7 linked regions of the Homo sapiens genome follow. The protein of the gene in region 4 purifies or fractionates together with the protein of the main gene of each other region. This does not show direct contact. Each region holds a gene or a part of one and is shown on either strand. Other genes may lie near its edges. The genes, in order: CKM, MYH4, ANKRD17, AKAP17A, RNPS1, PNN and NOS1AP.

Evidence for each region.
Region 1: the proteins of AKAP17A (region 4) and CKM purify together in Homo sapiens (affinity purification with mass spectrometry; 2 studies listed by BioGRID and IntAct, with this or other methods). This does not show direct contact.
Region 2: the proteins of AKAP17A (region 4) and MYH4 purify together in Homo sapiens (affinity purification with mass spectrometry; 2 studies listed by BioGRID and IntAct, with this or other methods). This does not show direct contact.
Region 3: the proteins of AKAP17A (region 4) and ANKRD17 purify together in Homo sapiens (affinity purification with mass spectrometry; 2 studies listed by BioGRID and IntAct, with this or other methods). This does not show direct contact.
Region 5: the proteins of AKAP17A (region 4) and RNPS1 purify together in Homo sapiens (co-immunoprecipitation; 4 studies listed by BioGRID and IntAct, with this or other methods). This does not show direct contact.
Region 6: the proteins of AKAP17A (region 4) and PNN purify together in Homo sapiens (affinity purification with mass spectrometry; 2 studies listed by BioGRID and IntAct, with this or other methods). This does not show direct contact.
Region 7: the proteins of AKAP17A (region 4) and NOS1AP purify together in Homo sapiens (affinity purification with mass spectrometry; 2 studies listed by BioGRID and IntAct, with this or other methods). This does not show direct contact.

The regions. Positions count from the first base shown.
Region 1 is NC_000019.10:45,312,876-45,316,375, reverse strand, and holds part of CKM (creatine kinase M-type), read left to right. Parts: intron 1-778; coding exon 779-911; intron 912-3,500. UniProt on the Homo sapiens protein: Reversibly catalyzes the transfer of phosphate between ATP and various phosphogens (e.g. creatine phosphate).
Region 2 is NC_000017.11:10,442,790-10,445,559, forward strand, and holds the end of MYH4 (myosin-4), read right to left. Parts: intron 2,574-2,770; coding exon 2,448-2,573; intron 2,358-2,447; coding exon 2,187-2,357; intron 2,111-2,186; coding exon 2,006-2,110; intron 1,911-2,005; coding exon 1,815-1,910; intron 739-1,814; coding exon 586-738; 3' UTR 501-585; downstream 1-500. UniProt on the Homo sapiens protein: Muscle contraction.
Region 3 is NC_000004.12:73,073,799-73,077,298, reverse strand, and holds part of ANKRD17 (ankyrin repeat domain-containing protein 17), read left to right. Parts: intron 1-194; coding exon 195-359; intron 360-1,008; coding exon 1,009-1,068; 3' UTR 1,069-3,500.
Region 4 is NC_000023.11:1,594,604-1,598,103, forward strand, and holds part of AKAP17A (A-kinase anchor protein 17A), read left to right. Parts: intron 1-780; coding exon 781-929; intron 930-3,500. UniProt on the Homo sapiens protein: Splice factor regulating alternative splice site selection for certain mRNA precursors. Mediates regulation of pre-mRNA splicing in a PKA-dependent manner.
Region 5 is NC_000016.10:2,258,127-2,261,626, reverse strand, and holds part of RNPS1 (RNA-binding protein with serine-rich domain 1), read left to right. Parts: intron 1-3,500. UniProt on the Homo sapiens protein: Part of pre- and post-splicing multiprotein mRNP complexes. Auxiliary component of the splicing-dependent multiprotein exon junction complex (EJC) deposited at splice junction on mRNAs.
Region 6 is NC_000014.9:39,178,254-39,180,986, forward strand, and holds part of PNN (pinin), read left to right. Parts: intron 1-837; coding exon 838-993; intron 994-1,070; coding exon 1,071-1,209; intron 1,210-2,249; coding exon 2,250-2,733. UniProt on the Homo sapiens protein: Transcriptional activator binding to the E-box 1 core sequence of the E-cadherin promoter gene; the core-binding sequence is 5'CAGGTG-3'. Capable of reversing CTBP1-mediated transcription repression.
Region 7 is NC_000001.11:162,356,191-162,359,690, forward strand, and holds part of NOS1AP (carboxyl-terminal PDZ ligand of neuronal nitric oxide synthase protein), read left to right. Parts: intron 1-769; coding exon 770-946; intron 947-3,500. UniProt on the Homo sapiens protein: Adapter protein involved in neuronal nitric-oxide (NO) synthesis regulation via its association with nNOS/NOS1. The complex formed with NOS1 and synapsins is necessary for specific NO and synapsin functions at a presynaptic level.

The sequences.
Region 1 (3,500 bases), on a different chromosome or scaffold from region 4:
CCTGGGCAACATAGTGACACCCTGTCTCTATTTTTTTTTTTTTTTTGAGACAGAATCTCACTCTGTCACCCAGGTTGGAGTGCAGTGGCTCGATCTCAGCTCACGGAAACCCCTGATCCCCAGGTTCAAGTGATTCTCGTGCCTCAGCCTCCTGAGTAGCTGGGATTACAGGCGCGCACCACCACGCCCAGCTAATTTTTGTATTTTTAGTAGAAATGGGGTTTCACCATGTTGGCCAAGCTGGTTTCGAACTCCTGACCTCAGGTGATTGGCTCACCTCGGCTTCCCAAAGTGTTGGGATTACAGGTGTGAGCCACCGCGCCCAGCCCCTGTCTCTATTTATAAAAAATTTATTTTAAGTTAGCCGAACATGGTGGCATATACCTACCTGTTAGTCCCAGCTACTTGGGAGGCTGAGGCAGGGGAATTGCTTGAGCCCAGGAGTTTGAGGTTGCAGTGAGCTATGATGGCACCACTGCACTCCAGCCTGGGCGACAGAGAGAGACCCTGTCTCGAAGAAAAAAAAGGAAAAGAAATATACGAAGATGGGGAGAGAGAGGTATAAAGAAAAACAGAGATAGGAGAGGGGAGAGAGACAGAGAAGGGAGAGACAGAGCCCAGGTATGGGTGGCGGGGAGAGGCTCCACACACCCAATCAGTGAGGATGCAGAAGGCAAAGGAAGCAACAGGGAGACTGAGGGGAGCATCTGGGGGAGACCTGGGCTTGCTGGAGAGGGCGGAGGATCTGCCTGGTCCTGATCTCCCACCCGCTCTCCAGGGTGGAGACGACCTGGACCCTAACTACGTGCTCAGCAGCCGCGTCCGCACTGGCCGCAGCATCAAGGGCTACACGTTGCCCCCACACTGCTCCCGTGGCGAGCGCCGGGCGGTGGAGAAGCTCTCTGTGGAAGGTGAGCGCCCCTACCCCGTCCACTGCTGGGGTCACCCAGCCCTGGCTCTGTTCCTCCATGGGCAGGTCCTCGGGTCTCTTTGGGCCCCCGCTTTTCAAAGTAGGGGAAGAGCTTGGTAAATCGTGGGGGCTTGGGGAATGGCGCGGGCTGTCAGCATTACCTGCTGTGTTGGAGATTCAGGGATGCTGTCCAGACCCGACGGCCCCTGAGAAGACCTACGCAGACACCTGGCTGCCCCCAGCGTCCTGCCATCCGTTCATCCAGCACACATTTCCAGGGGTTCTTGCCCTGTGTGGGGAGATAGGGGTCCCTCACTGTTCTCACAGAGTGTTCAGCTGGTGGGGAGACAAGAGGAAATACAGAAACCCACAGATGAACAAGATAATTCAAAAGTGCCATGAAGCCAAGACATGGGTGTGGTGGAGAATGACCGAGGGGAGCCACCTCAGATAGGAGGAGTTGAGGCCGGGCACAGTGGCTCCCACAGCAGTGCGGGAGGCCTAGGAGGGAGGGTCGCTTGAGCCCAGGAGTTCAAGACCAGACTGGGCAATACAGCAAGACCCTGTCTCTACAAAAAAGACAAAAATGAGCCAGGAGTGGTGGCACACACCTGTCATCCCAGCTACTCAGGAGACTGAGGTGGGAGGATCACTTGAGCCCGGGAGGTTGAGGCTGCAGTGAATCGTGATTGTGCCACTGCACTCCAGCCAGGGTGACAGAGTGAGAACCTGCCTCAAAAACAAATAAAAAGAGGCCAGGCACAGTGGCTCACACCGTAATCCCAGCATTTTGGGAAGCTGAGGCAGGTGGATCATTTGAGGTCAGGAGTTTGAGACCAGCCTGGCCAACATGGTAAAACCCCATCTCTACTAAAAATACAAAAATCAGCTGGGTCTGGTGGCACACACCTGTAATCCCAGCGACTTGGGAGACTGAGGCAGGAGAATCGCTTGAACCTGGGAGGCAGAGGTTGCAGTGAGCTGAGATCACGCCACTGCACTCCAGCCTGGGGGACAGAGTGTGACTCCATCTCAAAAAAAAAAGTTATGTTTATCCTATACTGTAGTCTGTTAAGTGCACAATAGCATTATGTCTAGAAAAAAAAAAGTACATACCTTAATTTTAAAATCCTGCTAAAAATGTTGTGATCATTTGAGGACTCAGCAAGTTGGAACCTTTCTGTTGTGTAGGGCCTTGCCTTGATGTTGATGGGCTGCTGACTGATCAGGGCGGTTGTCGTTCAAGGTTGAGATGGCTGCGGCAATTCCTTCCTTCCTTCCTTCCTTCCTTTCCTTTCTTTTCTTCCTCCCTTCCTTCCCTTCCTTCCCTCCCTCCCTTCCTTCCCTTCCCTTCCCTTTTCTTCTCCGTCCTTCCTTCCTTCCTTCTTTCCTCCCTCCCTTCCTCCCTTCCTTCCTTCCTTCTCTTTCTCTCTCTCTTTTCAAGACAGGGTCTTGTTCTGTTGCCCAGCTGGAATGCAGTGGTGCAATCATGACTTACCATAACCTCCAACTCCTGGGCTTAAGTGATCCTCCCATGTTGGTCTCCCAAAGTGCTGGCATTACAGGTGTGAGCCACAGTGCCTGGCCAGCAGTAATAGTTTGAAAAGAATCTCTTTTTTGAGATGGAGCCACACTCTTGTCGCCCAGGCTGGAGTGCAGTGGTGCAATCTTGGCTTACTGTTACCTCCACCTCGTGGTTCAAGCAATTCTCGTGTCTCAGCCACCCAAGTAGCTGAGATCACCGGCATGCGCCACCACGCCTGGCTAATTTTTGTATTTTTAGTAGAATCGGGGTTTCGCCATCTTGGCCAGGCTGGTCTCAAACTCCTGATCTCAGGTGATCTGCCTGCCTCAGCCTCCCAAACCACTAGGATTACAGGCGTGAGCCACCGCACCTGGCCTATGAAGCTTTTTATTTAAAGTGAAAAATGTTGACTCTTCCTTTCACTTGAACACCTCGAGGCCATTGTAAGGTTATGAACTGAATTGGCCTGATTTCAAAATCATGTGTCTCAGGGAATACGGAGGCTCAAGGAGATGGGGAGAGATGAGGGAATGGCTGGTCAGTGGGGCAGTCCGAGCACACACATTTATCCATTAAGTTCACCCTTTTATATGGGCAAGGTCGGTGGCACCCCCCAAAATTAAAACAGTAACATCAGAGATCACTGATCACGGATCGCCATGACAGATATAGTAATAATGAGAAAGTCTGCAGTACTGTGAGAATTACCCACATGTGACACAGAGACACGAAGTGGCACATGCTGTAGGAAAAATGGCTCCAATAGACCTGCTGGACAAAGAGTTGCCACAAACCTCCAATTTGTAAAAAACACAGTATCTGCAAAATGCAATAAAACGAGGTATGTCTGTATATTATATGAATATGTATAAGATATATAAATATTATAGATTTATTGTACATATGCACAAACACAAATTCATTATACACATATTTTATACATGAATATACAAATAAACACACAATTTTTTTTCTTTTTTTTTTTTTTAGACAGAATCTCACTCTGTCACCCAGGCTGGAGTGCAGTGGCAAAATCTCAGCTCACTGCAACCTCCACCTCTTGGG
Region 2 (2,770 bases), on a different chromosome or scaffold from region 4:
ATAACTGTCTGGTCCTCTTTTAGGAATCAGCTCATAGTCTCCTTTGAGAAGCCTTTCTGGATTTCCAAAGTTAGCAGCTCACTCTATGTTATTGCCACATTTGTTTTTCACACTCATGTCAGAGTATGTATGTTGCACATACATACAGCGTATATCTTTTTGAACTGCCGTCTTCCACACTGGATTGAACTTCTCAAAGACAGGGATAACTGTCACATCTTTCGTGTCCATTTCTGTACCAGACATATAGTTGATACTCAGTAAAATTGGTTGAATGGAATTGAGAGTGCGTTTGTCACCTTCATGTCTTCTCAGAGCACCTTATTTCATTTACCTTCCATTAAAGTTGGGTTCACTGCCTACATTCATTTTTGTTATTATCTCTGATTGCACATATTAGGAACTCCACAAATGTTGAATAAAGGAATTAGTTCTAATAGCACTAAAGAGCTTATAATTAAGAGACAAATGTATTTTTAGATGCAAAATTATCTAAAGATTTTATTTCCTTGATATACAGGACAGTGACAAAGAACTTCACATTTCGTGCATTTCTTTGGTCACATTTTCTTTCATTAGAATGAATTACTCTTCACTTATGACTTTTGTGTGAACCTCCCGACTCTTCACTCTCAGCTTGTTGACTTGGGACTCAGCAATGTCAGCCCGTTCCTTGGCCTCCTCCAGCTCGTGCTGGAGCTTGCGGAACTTGGCAAGGTTGACATTGGATTGTTCCTCCTGAGAACAGAGATGCATTTGAGATAACAAGAAAATTGGACATTTCCTGATTGTTATTGCTTTTGTTACTTCAGGATTTGCCTCATGAATGAGAAAGAAAAAGGCTCCGTTGTCCAGGCATGGTGGCTCACACCTGTAATCCCAGCACTCTGGGAGACTGAGGCGGGTGGATCACCTGAGGTCAGGAATTCGAGACCAGCCTGGCCAACATGGTGAAACCCCCATCTTTACTAAAATTAGCCCAGCGTAGTGGTGGATGCCTGTAATTCCAGCTACTCAGGAGGCTGAGGCAGGAGAATCTCTTGGACCCAGGAGGCAGAGATTGCAGTGAGCTGAGATTGTGCCATTGCACTCCAGCCTGGGCAACAAGAGCAAAACTCTGCCTCGAAAAAAAAAAAAAGAAGAGAAAAAGGCTTTATTATTTAGTAACATAGTTATTTGAGAGCAAGGCATCCCACAAACTCGCCTATGTAAATGAATGTGCTTATGACCCTCCTCAAGTCTCTCTCTCACTTGACTCTCTTTCTGGCAAACTGAAGAGGCTGCAGTGATAACTGGAAGAACAAAGTAGCAGGGATCTGAATTCAATCTTGTTTCTAAAAAAGAAACTTTAAAAAATAGGTGCAGTAGTGGCATTTGGTGCCAAGAACCCTAAGGAAGGTTTCAGAATTAACAGAATGAAAAAGATAACTGCAGCCAAATTGAAAAAAAAAGTCCCAAGATGGATTTATCATGAAGTTAAATGAAGCTTAGAATTCATACTCTCATTTGCACAGGTCCATATGAGTGCTGGGGGTTGTAGAATGTTCTAGATAGGGAGGGAAGTGGATTGCAACTAAGAAACATTTGTATGTTAACATGTCTGGAAAATTGCTTAAAGAGGTCTCAGAAGAAATAAACTCAAATCTATAAGGCTCCAGTAATTTATGGTTCATTTTTCTCATTCTAAATATTCATGTTCATACCTAATTATGTATTCCCAATTTAAAGAAAACCCCCTAAATTCTATAAACTTTAGGCCCCAAAAAACCTGGATGTGCATCTGAACCTTTCATTTCCACTGTGGAGATACTCACAGCCTCTTCAGCTTGTCTCTTGTAAGCTTTGACTTTGGTTTGCAATTTGTCCACCAAGTCCTGCAGCCTGAGAATATTCTTGCGGTCCTCCTCAGTCTGAAAGAGGTGCAAGTAGATGGTGCCATTATTTTAAAACAACTCATGATTTTCTTGAAAACTATAGGCCTGGAAGATATGAAAACACTGGTCACCTGGTAAGTGAGTTCCTTCACTCTTCTCTCATGTTTGCGAAGACCCTTGACAGCCTCAACATTGTGCTTCTGTTCACTTTCCACCTCACTTTCAAGCTCTCTCACCTGGAAGGGAACAAAGACGTTTACCAGTTTGGCTGTAACTGGCCACAAGGAATTGAGTGAAGTTGTGGAGACCTACCCTGGCCTCCAGTTTCTGGATCTGCTTCTTCCCACCCTTCAGCGCCAGCTGCTCAGCCTCATCCAGACGGAGCTGCAGATCCTTCACGGTCTGCTCCATGTTCTTCTTCATCCGCTCCAGGTGGGCGCTGGTGTCCTGTTCCTTCTTCAGCTCCTCAGCCATCATGGCAGCCTAGTTAGCAAATAAATTTTGAAAATAATGAATTCTGATGATAGCAGGCAGCATGCATGTGTCAGTAAGACAAATGCTCATCTTGCTTACATCAGTGATGGCCTTCTTGGCCTTCTCCTCTGCATTGCGGGCTTCCTGGACGATGTCCTCCATCTCTCCCTGGATTTGGGAAATGTCTGTTTCCAGCTTCTTCTTGGTGTTGATCAGGCTGGTGTTCTGTTTCAAATTAATGAAAGAGAAGAGAAGCACATTTACTTATAACAACTCACATTGTCATTTTACCTAGTGTACACAGGCAAAAATTATTGATCATAAGAAATGTTTAGAATAAAAACCAAATTAGAAGATAATTCTAAGTTTATGCCTTTTCTCCTTTCTATATATAGCTCTTTAATCAAACTTCTAAATTTAAT
Region 3 (3,500 bases), on a different chromosome or scaffold from region 4:
TGAATATAGTAGGCATATGTATAATCTAATGTTAAAATAAGTTATATAATGGGTAATAATTTTTAGATTTCTTAGATAAGTTACACATTCCCAGGATGAGGTGAACTTTCAAATATCAATTTTAAGGCTATTGATTATATTGGGAAAAATGAACAATGACTTGGATGTTAATGTGTGTGTTTTCCTTTTTTAAGGGTATGCCTTTTTCTGTGTATGGGAATGCAATGATTCCTCCAGTAGCACCTATCCCTGATGGTGCTGGAGGACCCATATTTAATGGCCCTCATGCTGCAGACCCTTCTTGGAACTCACTGATAAAGATGGTTTCCAGCTCCACGGAAAATAATGGCCCTCAAACGGTGAGGCTGATCATTCAGTGAATAAACAGTTGTTTTGTGTTTAAGAAATGCAAAGACAAATAGGATTCAGGTAACTCATGATAGCAAGAGAGTTTGGTGAATATGGGCAGTTGAGGAAATCTAATATAGCTGCAATATAGCAGAGGGCTGTGGGCAGTGGTACCAAAGGCAGGTTTGGGGCTAAAATTATGAAAGGTATTGTATATTCTACTGGGTAGCAGATAATAAATGAAAGATTTTAAGTTGCAAAGTGACTGTCATATGATTTTATACATTAAAGTTTACTAGTGGTGTGAAAAGACCATCTAAAGGTTATTTATTAAAGGTACTATAAATAACTCTGAGAATTCACATAAATGGTTGTATATTTTAGTTTAGTGTATGTTTAATATCTTTGATTTATTTTTCTTCCACAACCGTGAATCTATAAATGCTCAGGTAATGATTTTTTTTTTAAAGGTTGTAAATCAGATTCTGTTTGAGGGATAAGAGGTAGGAAAATAATAGAAAAAAGGTTTTTATCATTTTTTTCCATTAGTTCCTAGTATATTGCAAATTGAAGAGTACCTCCTTAGTTTTTTAAAAGTTTTATTTTAATAAAATATATGCTAGATATATATTTTGTAAAATGCATGCTCTATATTCATAGGTGTGGACTGGACCCTGGGCACCTCACATGAACAGTGTGCATATGAACCAGCTTGGCTGATGAGGATCAGCTTGTTAGCCTGCAGATTCCTTTTCATTTGGAGGAAATCACAAGTGGCCGAAAAAAAAAATTATGCTCCCAAATCATTCTACTGATGTGCTTGACTGAAGTGTGTAGGCTTTTTGCAGAAGATCTTACTAACTGACCTATTTTCTGTGAACATTTGTGACTGCCCATTCCCCATCATCATCCGTTTTACCTTAGTTAGCATTTTTCTTATCATTTTTCTTTTTTTCTTTCCCTCTTCCCCTTTGGACATAACTTTCTGTTGAAGCTGTTCTTTGGCTGGTTGGTTTTAGTACTGTAAACTGCTTCTGAGCAAACACGGAAATTTAGCAAAATTATGTAAACTTGATCCTGAAGTTTTAGAATGGCAAATAAATGTACAATTGTTTACATAACAGAAAAGGCTAAGCAGAAAGTAAATTTCAATATGTCAGTATAGAGGCTCTACTTTATGTAGACTTAAATTAATGTGAGATATGTACCTTCATATTCAGAAATCTGGATGTTTCCTTCATACATTAAACTATTAATAAGCATAACTTTTCTACTGGTGTAATTTAAGTATAAAGTAAAATAATGGGCATTATCATTGGATGTTTCCCCACATTGGCTTTTAAAATACCCATCTTGCTTTCTTTTTGGTTTATTTGTAGCAAGGCACATATAGAAGAAGAAATTTCTGGCTTTTCCATGTTGTTTTATTACCTTTTCTCACTTTTAAAACTAATACAGACTTATCTCCTCACTCCTTTTTCTCTCCTTACCTTTACCACTAATACCAGTAAAATTATCTTTCTGATAGTGAAAAGGTTCTGTCAAGATTTTCACTGTAATGGCTGCTACAGAGATGGACCATCTTCATCATCACCAGTGGTTTCTTCTAATTATAAAATGTTTAAACTTTCTGAGAATTTAAAAAGCCACCACTGTTCCCAGTCAGCATATACAAGCTCTTAATATTCTGTTTATTAAATAATTCAATGTACTATTTTATATTGGATGATATTGATTCTTAACATTGGCTTTTCAGTCATCAACAGTCAACATAAAAATTTCAATTTTCAGTAATTTAGTGGAAAATATCTTATTTCTTTTTTCAATTTTAAAGGCTTCCTGCTTTTTTACCCTTGTATATTATCAGTGAAAAGGATCAACAGTTAATTTGAGCCAAGTAATAAAAGAAATTCTGCATTTGTCACGAAGACAATTTATGGTAGACAGATAAATACACAGATTACAGTGTAAAGTCTCCATTTAACCTGTTTATAAAAGATACAAGGCCACACTAAACTACTCAGTGGGATTTATATATTCCATCCACTTGAAACAATAAACAGTAATGTATCCAAGAAGATTATGTGTCCTACCCTGTCTCATGGAAAAATTAATTATATGGTTGAAATGTAAAAGAAAGTAAGCATAAAAATCGAGTAATGTATATATCAATTTGTCTTCTTTTTTTTTAATTAGACATAAAATTTCACACTGGTAAAACATAAAAACTAACTAAAATTCATATAAATCACCTAGAGTTGATGATATTAACATGGTTCCTTGGTTGTCAAGTAAATCAAATGATTTCTTCCATCTGAGTAAAGAGTAAAGCCTGAGTAAAGAGTAAAAAGATGACTTCTCAAACATATCCAGAAATTTGTAAACAGTACACTCATATCTTTTAGTTTAAGAAGTGGTCTTAAAATATATAAATTTGTTTTTCCACCTATGTTTAATATGCCCAAATTTAAAGGGAGAGCTAAAAGACAGCCTACAAATAAATATAGCTATGAAATAAAATTATAGCACTTTACTAAAAAAGGGATGTAATAATGTTATTTAACGAAGTATTTTATATATGACTTGCCACTATTCTATACATAAAATTTTTTTTCTTAATTCTTTCCTGTGTTAACTAGGGTTATTTTCTATTTAAGGTAATCCTGCTGGAGAACAGATGCTATCCAATATTTATTACAACACATGAGTTGTGTTGTTTCACAATACTGAATTTCTTAGGTGAGGTATTTTATTTAAAAAGGAGGGGGAAAACTCCTATATTTTCTTGACTTCAAACCTGTGGGGCCAGGGGATATAGATTGAAATGCTCCGTATTTAGTCTTGGGGATCAGGCTTGTTTAGTACAATACCATGGTTTTAGAAGTCTGTACTAGGAACATTTTTAAAATACATTTTTTATATTTCAGATGTAATGCAGTGCACTTTTATTTGAACAATAAAAAAACCCATAACTTTTTGAGACCATGAAGGTCTTTTATTTTTTAATTTTGAAAATATGTGGTATGTGTATATGCAGACTACATCATTGTTTTAAGAAATGATTTAACTCTTGGACATTACACTTGGGTTAGTTCACACCTTAAATCCCCAAGTAGTTAATATCTCAATTATTGTATAATCAGTTTATACCA
Region 4 (3,500 bases):
TTTTTTTATTTTTTTTATTTTTATTTTTTTTTCGAGGCAGAGTCTCGATCTGTTTCCTGGACTGGAGTGCAGTGGCGCAATCTTTGCTCAGTGCATCCTCCGCCTCCTGGGTTCGAGCGATTCTTCTGCCTCAGCCTCCCGAGTAGCTGGGACTACAGGCGCGTGCCATCACACCTGGCTAATTTTTGTATTTTTAGTAGAAACAGGGTTTTGCCGTATTGGCCAGGCTGGTCTCGAACTCCTGACCTCATGAACTGCCTGCCTCGCCCTCCCAAAGTGCTGGGATTACAGGCGTGAGCCACTGCGCTCAGCCTAGCCTCGTGTTTTGACCGTGTTGGCTTCACAGTGACAAATGAGCCAGCCTCCTGGAGGGGGTTTTGTGGCCTTAAGATGTGCCCTGTGGGTGTGGGCAGGCGGCCTGCTCAGTGACTGTGGCCACAGGGAATGGTGGAGCCGGGTAGCGGAAGGGGAGCTGTGTCTCGCAGCGGTGGCGTGTCACTTGTGTTCAGTAAGTGGCGAGGGCTAGTTGGTGTTCCTCGCTGAGTCGTAACTCCGTGGGATGAGCTAAGTCTTGAGCCACTGATGGTGACTTGAAGGGATTGGTTTGGCTTCTGGGCTCCACTGTCTGGGTCTGCACCGGACATGAGTGGTGAGCGGTGAGCGGTGAGCGGGCGCTCAGGCTCTGAGGCCACTCGGCCCTACGGCCCAGGAGAGGGCGCCTGGCCGTGTGTCTGGGGGGTTTTGGGGGAAGGCCATCTGACACTGTTTTTGCTTTTAAAGGTTTCTTTTGATTCGACCAAACACCTGAGTGATGCCTCAATTAAGAAGCGGCAGCTGGAGAGGCAGAAGCTTCAGGAACTGGAGCAGCAAAGAGAAGAACAAAAGCGCAGAGAGAAGGAAGCGGAGGAGAGGCAGCGAGCGGAGGAAAGGTACCTTCTGCGGGAGCGGGCCCTCGGCGCTGGTGTCCGGCACCTGGGAGTGTGCGCAGACCCGTGTGCGTGTGTCTGCATGTATTCCTGTGCGTGTGTGTGTGCATGCATGCTTGTGAGCTTGTGTGTGTACCTGTGTGCATGGACGCACGTGTGCCTGTGAACCGGTGTGTGTACTTTGTATGTCCCTATGTGCGCCCGAGTGTGTGCCTGAGCATCTGTGTGCACGTGTGCCTGTGTGTGCGTGCATGTGTGTGAGCTCGTGTGTGTACCTGTGTGTGTATGTGCACGTGTGCCCACATGTGTGTGCTTCTGTATCGGCACATAGCACACATGTGCCTGTGTGCATGCGTGTGTGCCTGTGAACCCGTGTGTGTACTTGTGTGTGCACGTATGGGTGTGTGTGCAGGCCTGTGGGTGCTCAGCTGTGCACGTGAGGACCTGCGTGAGTGGCTGTTTGAGACGCAGCAGAATATGAATGTTTCTCTTTTTCTTGTCACACGTCGTGGTCTGACACGATCTCTGCCGGCTCCCAGGACCGCGCCTTGCCCGAAGAGCCACCTCTTCTCCCTCCACATGCTGTTCACACCTCCCGCTGAAACAAGCAGAATGCCTTGGCTGTTTGCAAGTTTGCATTTAGGTTGAGGCTACATTTACAAAATGAAGTAGAGGGTTGATGGTGATGGCCAGATTTAAAAAAAAAAAAAAAAACAAAAAACCAATGATAGGACAAAAACCCGGTTTCACATAAGAGGCCTTTAAAGCAATTGCCTGGGTCGTTCACTGTGGTTGGGGTACCAGAGACAACCTCAGGTCACTCTTTGTAGCCCCTTTTATCTTCTTAGCATTGCAGGAGGGAACCAACAACTTTCTGTGAATCCCCTGAGGCGGAATCCTCCTCCTCCTCCTCCTCCTCCATCCCTCCCACCCTCCTAGTGAGGTGGATTCCTCCTCCTCCTCCTCCATCCCTCCCACCCTCCTAGTGAGGCGGAATCCTCCTCTTCCTCCTCCATCCCTCCCACCCTCCTAGTGAGGTGGATTCCTCCTCCTCCTCCTCCATCCCTCCCACCCTCCTAGTGAGGTGGATTCCTCCTCCTCCTCCTCCATCCCTCCCACCCTCCTAGTGAGGTGGATTCCTCCTCCTCCTCCTCCATCCCTCCCACCCTCCTAGTGAGGTGGATTCCTCCTCCTCCTTCTCCGTCCCTCCCACCCTCCTAGTGAGGTGGATTCCTCCTCCTCCTCCTCTTCCTCCTCCATCCCTCCCGCTGTGCCCTCCTAGTGAGGCGGATTCGTCCTCTTCCTCCTCCATCCCTCCTGCCGTGTCCTCCTAGTGAGGTGGATTCCTCCTCCTCCTTCTCCGTCCCTCCCACCCTCCTAGTGAGGCGGAATCCTCCTCCTCCTACTCCTCTTCGTCCTCCGTCCCTCCCGCTGTGTCCTCTGACGACTTTGGTGCGTCCTGCACGTCTGTTGCGCTTCATGTCGCCGATATCAAGTCTGGGACGTGTTGGACTTGGCTGGGGGGCTCCTGGACAGCCTCTGGTGGGACCGAGTTGGTCCGTTTTGTTTCCATTTCTCACTGCTTTATGTGACGCTGGTGCCAGCGTGTTGATGTGTGTGGCTGGTGATGTTTGCACGAGAGTCCCGGCACTGAACTCCTGGGAGCAGGTCCATCCTGCCCGTGGTGTTCTTTACGTAGCCCCCGTTGCCTCCCCAGGGGAGAGTCGGGTTGTCAGCCTCTGAATCTGAACCCCGAGGGCTCCTTAGGTGAGGCAGGTGCAGTGTGTAAGCGAGTGGCCGTGAATGTGCTGGGGGGGCCCATGTCAGCCGTCAGGATTCCCAGGACCTAAGGCAGGCAGCACAGAGAGGCAGACGCCCTGGGAGGGAGGGACATGCTGCTGCGTCGCCATCCTGGGAGGCGGTCCCTGGGAGGGGCGGTTCGGATGTGGGGTTGAGTCCGGGTCCCCTGTGTCAGCCACTGTCAGGCCGAGCAGGACAGCTGGGGTGGGAGACAGTCCTGGGGCGTTACAGGGACTCTTCCAGGCTGCAGACACAGCCCAGGCCTGGCTGAATGTGCCTGTCCACATTCTGGAAGTGTGGAGTGGGACTCAGAGCCTCGGACCTCTCGGTGTCGCAGGAGTGTCCCCGCAACATTTCAGAAAGCAGCTTGCGGGTGCGGAGAAGAAGCTGCATCCTTGATCTTTCCCTGAGGAGAGATGGACGTTGGAGTAGTGGAGTGTGTCTCTGCAGGGAAGGGACCCCGTCTGCCTGGCCAGACCACAGAGGGATTGGGGGAAGCGGGGCCGGGCCATGAGGTTCTCGAGAGCAGGATGGGGTGTCCAGAGCCCCGGGGAGGGGCAGGCCTGTTGTCTGGGGGAGCTGGCCAGGAGGGCTCCACACGCAGGGCCGTACTTGTCCCCGCTGTCCCCCACTGTCCTTCCTCAGAGGCTGAGCATGAGGGGAGGCCCAGGGCAGCCTCCTGCATTTCTTTCTGGTGGGTGGAGATGAGGCATGTTTGCTTGTTCAGCCCTCACGTGTAACTTTGAGCTTGATGAGAGCTGTCCTCTGAAAGCT
Region 5 (3,500 bases), on a different chromosome or scaffold from region 4:
TTAATATTTAACTACTCAGACAGTACTAAAACACTTGTTACAGAGGCCTGCGTTAGTGAGACCTGGCCTGCCACAATCCCCACTGTCAATTTGCTCATGCTTTTTATCATGCATGTATATGTATTTATTAATCACGAGAATCGTAGGGAGATGAAGCATTGTAATCTTTCTGGCTGCTTCCTGCTGAGAGAGGGTTGTCGTCATGGGGCACCAAACACAGCGCTGGAGTGGAAGAGGTGGATTTGTTCCCGGTAGCACTTTCTGTTCTGGGGGCTTCGAGGCAGCACCTGCTGAAACGTAATAGGATGCAACAGCCACACATAGAAGTAGGTTGCTGCTGTTTTCTTCCCAAGTTTAGTCTTCAGTTTACAGGGCTTGAGGAAAGCATAGCTTAGATTTCAGTGATTTCCAATTAGGAAAAAGGAAACAAAAAAGGAAAAAATTGAGAACAGTATTTGGGTGTACTATAGTTTTTGAAACAATTTTTTTTTTTTTTTGAGACGGAGTCTGGCTCTGTCGCCCAGGCTGGAGTGCAGTAGCACCACCTCGGCCCACTGCAAGCTCTGCCTACCAGGTTCATGCCATTCTCCTCCCTCAGCCTCCCGAGTAGCTGGGACTACAGGCGCCCACCACCATGCCTGGCTAATTTTTTGTATTTTTAGTAGAGACGGGGTTTCACCGTGTTAGCCAGGATGGTCTGGATCTCCTGACCTTGTGATCCGCCTGCCTCGGCCTCCCAAAGTGCTGGGATTACAGGCATGAGCCACCATGCCCAGCCAACAATTTTTTTTGGGGGCTTCCCATTTTTATTAAAAGACAAATAGGACTGGTATTTATTAAAAGACAAGACTGGTTTGCTTTATTATATTTGGCTTAATTATTTGTATACAGTGGAGCAAGAACCATAATTTTTTCTATAGGCCTTTTATCTGAGATAATACCTTTTTAAACCCAAGCCCAGCCATGGATATGTACAATTAAATACCTGTGAGTTGGGTGAAATCCTCTCCTCTTGAGGTTCCAAGATAACTTGAGGTTTTTGTCCATTAGAAAGTGGCATGTTTTACTTCCCTCAGATTAGAAACCCTGTACAGGGACTGTGTACACAAAATAGGAGGCCGGTTTTTTATTTGTGTTCTGTTACAAAAGAAAACGGATTTTTATTGCACTTACGCAAATAACTATATTGCTATAAATTAAGAATACGTACAAATAGACTGGGCAACATGGATCACCTGAGGTCAGGAGTTTGAGACCAGCGTGGCCAACATCGTGAAACCCCGTCTCTAATAAAAATACAAAAATTAGCCGGGCATGATGGCACACACCTGTGGTCCCAGCTACTTGGGAGGCTGAGGCAGGAGAATTGCTTGAACCTAGGAGGCAGGGATTGCAGCGAGCCAAGATTACGCCACTGCACTCCAGCCTGGGCAACAAAGTGAGACTAGGTCTCAAAAAAAAAAAAAAAAAAAAAAAAAAGAATACACACACACACACAAATAGTTTCCAAATTCTGAAGAAATTAGGTAGAGAGAAACAAATATGCTCCAAGTTTTGTTCCTAGGCGTATACTTAATTGTTGATAGCTTAAAACTTTTTTTGACTTTGAAAAATAAAAGGATTAGGAATATTTTAAGCAAAAAGTTAAAAAGATTACTTCAGTGTTCTATTAGTTCAGTTTATGCAGTTAATTTCTGCCCTGCTTGATATTAATGAACGCTTTACCTTTCTTTTTTTTGAGACGGAGTCTCGCTCTGTCGCCCAGGCTGGAGTGCAGTGGCGCAATCTCGGCTCACTGCAAGCTCCACCTCCTGGGTTCACACCATTCTCCTGCCTCAGCCTCTCGAGTAGCTGGGACTGCAGGCACCGGCCACCACACCCAGCTAATTTTTTGTATTTTTAGTAGAGATGGAGTTTCACCCTGTTAGCCAGGATGGTCTGGATCTCCTGACCTCGTGATCCGCCCGCCTCAGCCTCCCAAAGTGCTGGGATTACAGGCGTGAGCCACTGCACCCGGCCTTATTTTAGCTCTTTAAGAGTCCTGAATGTTTTTTCTTTATTCTGATGTCACAATCTGCAAAGTTATTAGAAATCTGTATTTAAGAGCAACTGTTAGAACTCTATAGCTGATTATAAAACCACCTTCTAAAAAGGATTAAAACAAGACAACAATTGTTTATGGATGACAAAAAGGTTTTAGGGCAGCCATAGTTAAAGACACAATTGACGAAATTTGTTAGCTCTGTGGCACACAATAATTTAACATAACAATTATAATTATTACTGATCATGTACACTAGGATATATTGCAATTGTAGGAGTTTTACGTGATTTTGGGACACATATCAATAACATTTATACAAATACAGCCCAAACAAAGCCAAACCCAATTTTATATTTGGTAGTGCTTCCTGTATAATTTTTGGTACCAAATAAGCCAAATTTCACTTTTACATCAGTGTGCTGTTAATGTTAAAACCCAATCCTTTTTTTTTTTTTTTTTGAGACTTTTTTCTGCTCTTGTTGCCCAGGCTGGAGTACAATGGTGCAATCTTGGCTCACTGCAACCTCCGCCTCCTGGGTTCAAGCAGTTCTCCTGCCTTAGCCTCCCGAGTAGCTGGGATTACAGGCAACCTCCACTATATCCAGCTAATTTTTGTATTTTTAGTAGAGACATGGTTTCACCATGTTGGCCAGGTTGGTCTTGAACTCCAGACCTCAGGTGATCCACCCGCCTTGGCCTCCCAAAGCAGCTGGGATTACAGGTGTGAGCCACTGCGCCCGGCCTAAACGTAATTTTAATGCTTAATTTACAGAAAAACTAGATGATACCCCTTTAACTTTAGCCAGCATGTTTACATACAGAATTTTCTTTACAATCAACCTCCCACACCTTTTTTTGAGACAGAGTCTTGCTCTGTCGCCCACGCTGGTGTGCAGTGGCATGATTTTGGCTCACTGCAACTTCCACCTCCTGGGTTCAAGCAATTCTTCTGCTTCAGCCTCCCCAAGTAGCTGGGATTACAGGCTCCCGCCACCACACCTGGCTAATTTTTGTGTTTTTAGTAGAGATGGGGTTTCACCATGTTGGCCAGGCCTGTCTCAAACTGCTGACTTCAGGTGATCCTCTCGCCTCAACCTCCCAAAGTGCTGGGATTACAGGCGTGAGCCAACGCGCCCGGCATGGATTCCAGTTCTTAGTGGGTGTGTGATTACCGAAAAGATGTTTTAGGAACACCTTTTTTTTGTAGCTCCAGTTTAAAGGAACACTATTCTTGGGGGAAAAAAATTAGCAAATATGCGTAGATTAACATTTTAGAGAGTTTCCAATCTGTTAAAAGCTTAAGGATCAAATTCAGTTTTCTTACATAGAATACATTTGGCTTTTTATATGGGAATATTTCCTTTAATCATTTCTGAGAACCAGAAGTTTCCCAGTATTTCAGCATTTTTAGTTTATTTTGCTGAGTGACTGGATTTACTGAATCTATACAGTTTAT
Region 6 (2,733 bases), on a different chromosome or scaffold from region 4:
TGCAGTGGCTCATGCCTGTAATCCCAGCACTTTGGGAGGCTGAGGCAGGTGGATCACCTGAGGTCAGAAGTTTTTCGAGACCAGCCTGGCCAACATGGTGAAACCCTGTCTTTACTAAAAATACAAAATTAGCCGCCTGTGGTGGCATGCGCCTGTAATCCCCAGCTATTTGGGAGGCGGAGGCAAGAGAATCACTTGAACCCTGGAGGTGAGGTTGCAATGAGCCAAGATCACACTATTGTACCCCAGCCTGGGCAACAGGCGCAAAACTCCATCTCAAAAAAAGAAAAAATGTGAAGCATATGCAGATACCTTTTTTTTTTCTTTTTCTTTTTTTTTGTAGAGATGGGGTTTTATCATGTTGCCCAGGCTGGTCTGAGCTCAAAGCAATCCACCCACCTCAGCCTCCCAGAGTGCTGGGATGACAGGTGTGAGCCACTGTGCCCGGCCTGCAGATACCTTTACATAGTGAAAAAAAAAAAAAAAAAAAAAATTTTTTTTGAGATGGAGTTTGGCTCTTCTTGCTCAGGCTGGAGTGTAGTGGCGTGATCTCAGCTCACTGCAACCTCCGCCTCTGGGGTTCAAGTGATTTCTCCTGCTTCGGCCTCCCAAGTAGCTGGGATTATAGGTGCGTGCAACCACGCCCTGTTAATTTTTTTGTGTTTTTAGTAGAGATGGTGGTGTTGGCTTCTGACTTCAGATGATCTACCTGCCTCTAATGTTTCACGTAATTAGTATGTGTAATAACTTTTTATCATAATTGAACTGAAATCATATATACCTTTTGTTGTAACTATTTCAACACGTAAGTATTAAAGCAGGCTACTTAACTTTTAGCAAAAGCGGCGCCAGGAAATTGAACAAAAACTTGAAGTTCAGGCAGAAGAAGAGAGAAAGCAGGTTGAAAATGAAAGGAGAGAACTGTTTGAAGAGAGGCGTGCTAAACAGACAGAACTGCGGCTTTTGGAACAGAAAGTTGAGCTTGCGCAGCTGGTGAGTGGTAATTTGGAATTCTAAGATTGGTAATCCTTTGTGTTTACAAAAGCACTGACCCTTTACCTTTTCTTTAGCAAGAAGAATGGAATGAACATAATGCCAAAATAATTAAATATATAAGAACTAAGACAAAGCCCCATTTGTTTTATATTCCTGGAAGAATGTGTCCAGCTACCCAAAAACTAATAGAAGAGTCACAGAGAAAAATGAACGGTAAGTATGCGAAGAGGTCCATTGAATTGTTCATAGTGGGTAAGGTAATATGTTCATATGCACACGTTTGTTTTCTAAAATAATTATGATTCAGTGATTGGTTTGCTGTGTTTGCTTTTTTTTTTTAAATAAGATAATAAGATATTCTAGGCCGGGCGTGGTGGCTCACGCCTGTAATCCCAGCACTTTGGGAGGCTGAGGCAGGCAGATCATGAGGTCAGGAGATCGAGACCATCCCGGCTAACATGGTGAAACCCCGTCTCTAGTCTCTACTAAAAATACAAAAAAAATTAGCTGGGCATGGTGGTGGGCACCTGTAATTCCAGCTACTTGGCAGGCTGAGGCAGGAGAATCACTTGAACCTGGGAGGCAGAAGTTGCAGTGAGCCGAGATTACGCCACTGAACTCCAGCCTGGGCAACAGAGCTAGACTCCATCTCAAAAAAAAAAAAAAAGATACATTCTGAGATGCTGGTGAGTTTGTAGTATAGGAATATTTGTATCATGATGGAGTTTAATGTGAAAGTTATAGACAGTGCTTATGCATCTGTATTCCTTAAGCATTTGTGTAAAATTACTTTTTTTTGCATGCTATTATTGTTCTGATAAAATGCTAATAAGACAAATGTGAAAACCAACTCAGTTTCTAGATGGAAAACACATGGAAGGATAGACACTGCTAAGATGATGATTTATCTCTTTGGGATCAGAAAAATTAATATATATGATTTTATGCCAAAACTGGTTCTGTTTTACAGAAGTTTTATTTTTCATCAGACATAAAGATTGATCTGTTTTCTTCATCAGTTAGAAAATGTGTAGTTCTGTCTGCCACAATTTCTAGTATGTAGATTTCCCATGGATCTTTGCTTTTATAATTTTATGTCAGTTTGTGGTTACTTAATTGCCATAATCTTTTGTCATAACTTTACAAAAACAAATTCAGATGAAGCTTAATGACAATTTGTGACCAGTTATAAAATTATGGCTTTGAATTTTCTTAATCGGTAAATTTTACACATGTAAATTTTTATTCTTTAGCTTTATTTGAAGGTAGACGCATCGAATTTGCAGAACAAATAAATAAAATGGAGGCTAGGCCTAGAAGACAATCAATGAAGGAAAAAGAGCATCAGGTGGTGCGTAATGAAGAACAGAAGGCGGAACAAGAAGAGGGTAAGGTGGCTCAGCGAGAGGAAGAGTTGGAGGAGACAGGTAATCAGCACAATGATGTAGAAATAGAGGAAGCAGGAGAGGAAGAGGAAAAGGAAATAGCGATTGTTCATAGTGATGCAGAGAAAGAACAGGAGGAGGAAGAACAAAAACAGGAAATGGAGGTTAAGATGGAGGAGGAAACTGAGGTAAGGGAAAGTGAGAAGCAGCAGGATAGTCAGCCTGAAGAAGTTATGGATGTGCTAGAGATGGTTGAGAATGTCAAACATGTAATTGCTGACCAGGAGGTAATGGAAACTAATCGAGTTGAAAGTGTAGAACCTTCAGAAAATGAAGCTAGCAAAGAATTGGA
Region 7 (3,500 bases), on a different chromosome or scaffold from region 4:
CTTGTGTATGTCTGAAGAAGTCCCCACAGCAGAACTGCCAGAAACAAAATGTCTTTCCCTGCCATGGAATTCTATGAATCGTAGAAGCCATCTTGGTAAAAATGTCCACAGGAGAGGGAGACAGAAGGAAAGGAGGGAAGGACACAGGAACTTCTTTCATCTAAGAGGATCTCTCCAGATCATTATATATTTTAGGATCCAAACTTCTTTGCCGATGGTTCTCACCAGAGGCAGTGGAGGGCAGGAGGTAGCCCCCTCACATGGCCCCTTCCTCCAGGACCCAGCTCCACGCTTCTCCCAACAAGGGAGAAGGAACATCTCAGACCCTGGAGGAGGGAGCCCTAAGGACACAGCAGAGTAGAGGATTGAAGCTGGGTCCTTCCTGTTATCATGGTAGGGTGGATGGAAGCTACGTTTTCCTAAAATAGATTCTTCTAAGTCTAGAACCTCAAGGAACTCAGTGACAGGGTATCATTGGAAGTGGTGGGCAAGAGATGGAGCAGTATCAGCCATCAGTCTCCCATCGGGGTCAGTTACCGAGGTGTCCCCCTAGTCCCCCTACGATTTTCTGACTGTGTGGTATCAGCCCAGGCAGCTACACCATTTCCTTTCTGGGCCTCTACTCCCATTTCCATTGAAGATATAGTGCTGTCAGCTTATGGGTTGTAAGTGTGCCAATTTGCTCCTCCTGAGTGCATGCCAAAGAGAGGGAGGCCCCTCAAGATGGCTCCTGCCACATGTCATGTCCTGTCTTCTCCTTCTCCTCCAGGTTTCGCACCCCCAGGAGCCCATGCTGACAGCCTCACCCAGGATGCTGCTCCCTTCTTCTTCCTCGAAGCCTCCAGGCCTGGGCACAGAGACACCGCTGTCCACTCACCACCAGATGCAGCTCCTCCAGCAGCTCCTCCAGCAGCAGCAGCAGCAGACACAAGTGGCTGTGGCCCAGGTTCTCCTCAGCCTCCTCCCTACTTCGCAGGCTCCACTCTCATGGGCTTGATGCACCTTCCCTAGCGAGGGGCTCAGGGCAGGTTTAAAATCTAGGGAGTCATAAGGAATCGCTCATGCTATTGGATCATTGCTTGTTGGGGAGTGGGGGCAGCGGGAGGGGGATAGATGGGGGATGCAGTTGAAATGGAGAGGCACATTTTGGTTTCCCATGTATCCCCTGCTCTGAGCTGGGCTTGGCTGGCTTGGCTGAATGTTGTTAATGACTTGAACTGACCAAGGGAAAAGATGCACACAATTCCACCCTTCCTTTCCTGCCTTACTTTCCTGATATTTGGGGTGGAAAGTGATGCCTTTGGAGTCAGAACAGTTGTGGCTTTATGATACCACTCTTAAAACAGCTTAAAGTATGAATTTGTGCCAAACACTGTTGTAAAAAGATTACTACCCTAGCATCCCAGTCTCCGTGTCTATAACAGGTTTCCCAGCCTTCATTACGATCTACTTATTCCAGGCAGTATTTGATTGGAATTCATTATTGTAGGATTTAACTTACAGGAATTTAGGTGTATTATTTGAGCCATAATGAAAAGAATTGGCTTAGATCTCAGAATCAAGGTGGTGTTTGTACCCCAAAAAACTTGTTCGGGGGCTGCTACATTATAGGGGAGGGTGAGCTGATTTCCCTTGCTGCTTTCAGCAGGGATTCTTCTTGTTTGCTTTCTATAGAGGGCGCTGTAGTCCACATCTTTCTTGGGAAGTCTGAGCTCCCTCTCTACCACCAGCACTCAGGGAATGGTGAAGACATTCATTCATACCCAAGGCTGAATCCTGAGGCGAGAGGCAGGGTCAGGGCCTGATGAGTGCATGAAGATCTTAGGAGACGGGGCAGTTGGGGCTTGGAAGAATTGGTAAAGGATCTGGAAAGGCAGCCTGCATCAACATTCTAAATCTGCTTGACCAGACTGTTGACCACTTAGGTTTTCTGCATTCTAGAATGGCGGGGAGCAGACTTCTCCAGGGAGCACTTATTGCTCTCTGTTATGTCTTCTGCTTACTCTTGTCCTGGCTCTTGAGTGGACTGAATCATCCAGCCAGAGATATCCTTTCCACCTTTCCACCTTGAGGAGGCATCCGGCGTCCTGGCCATAACAGGATCTGCTATGACTCAGGGTTTGAAGAAGACCTTCTTGTAACACGGTCTCTCCTGACCTGGGCCTGAGATGCAAGGCTCATGGATGACTTTTGCAGCCAGGTTTCAGGAGAGTAGAGTCAATGGGACACAGCTCTCAAGTTATCGGAGTCTTTTTAAAAAGTCTTACCATGAAACAAAAGGATATCTCGTGATGCTAGGAGGATTTGCAGGTGTTCCCAAAACAGCAACAGAGAGGGGGAATGTCATTAATGGCTTCTTATATTTGGAGAAAAAAAATCATTTCTCTTTGTCAAATAAAAGAATCCATCTCCTGTAGTTAATGATGGCACAGCAGTCTGAGAATCCCCTCCCTAGTGTGACAGTTGACAGGAGCACAAAGACTAAGCACTGCAGCACGGGTCCATTCTCAGACTCATTTCATTTCCACAAGTTTCCCATTGAATACAGAACATAATACTTTTATTTTGCAGCGTATCAATTGCCAAGTAATTATTATTTATCTAAGAGTGGGCTTGATGCATATTCATGATATGATTTTATCAGGGAGGCATTTGAATTCGAAGTCACTGCTAAGTACTAGAGAGAAACTATTTGCAAATGTGTAATCCACACAATAGTGTTGTGGCGGTGGAAGGAAGCATTCAATCTCCAAAGCAACAAGACATGTAACTTATCACAGGTCTACTACAGTCAGGATGAAACCTTAAGAGTAGTTTTCTGGTATAGAATCAATTGTCAGTCTCCATGGGAAATCCTGCCCTGGCCCTGTTTTAATTGTGTCTCTCCTAGAAGACAATGAATCTAGGGGAAGGAAAGGGTGTGGTATTAGAGATTTGCTTCATGAGCCTCTCTCGGTTCCACATGTCCACAGGCTGAGCACCCTTAGCCTCTCACTCACTTGGAATCTGTTGAATATAGTTGCCCTGCTTGACTCTCAATACAAGCAGTGTGGTGATCAAAAGGCCACCATACTGCATCTGTGTCCCACATTTGTGAGATGACTTTAGGGAGAGTCTTAGGCTTCCAAAATCATCAGATAGGACGTTGGGGTCATCTGATAGGTTCTTGAACATACTCCTGTACCTCTGTCTGCCATGCCCATCTGTCTCTGACTACCTTCTTTCTGTTCGCATCTTGCTTTTGCTGTCCAGGACCACAGCAGGGATATTGTACATTTCAGCTGGCTTTCAGCTCTCCTGTCCTGCAGACGGATTCGGTCCTAAACTGACCTTCAGTTAGAGGTTTCTCCGCACACTGTTCATTCTTCCACTTTCTTTGTAGTGTTTAATTCAAGGGCTTTTTTACTAGTGTCTATATCCTTGGGTAAAAACAATTACGTAAGATGTAGCTGGATTAATAGGTGGGTCTTCTTGGCATCTTTCACACATTTGAAATAGAC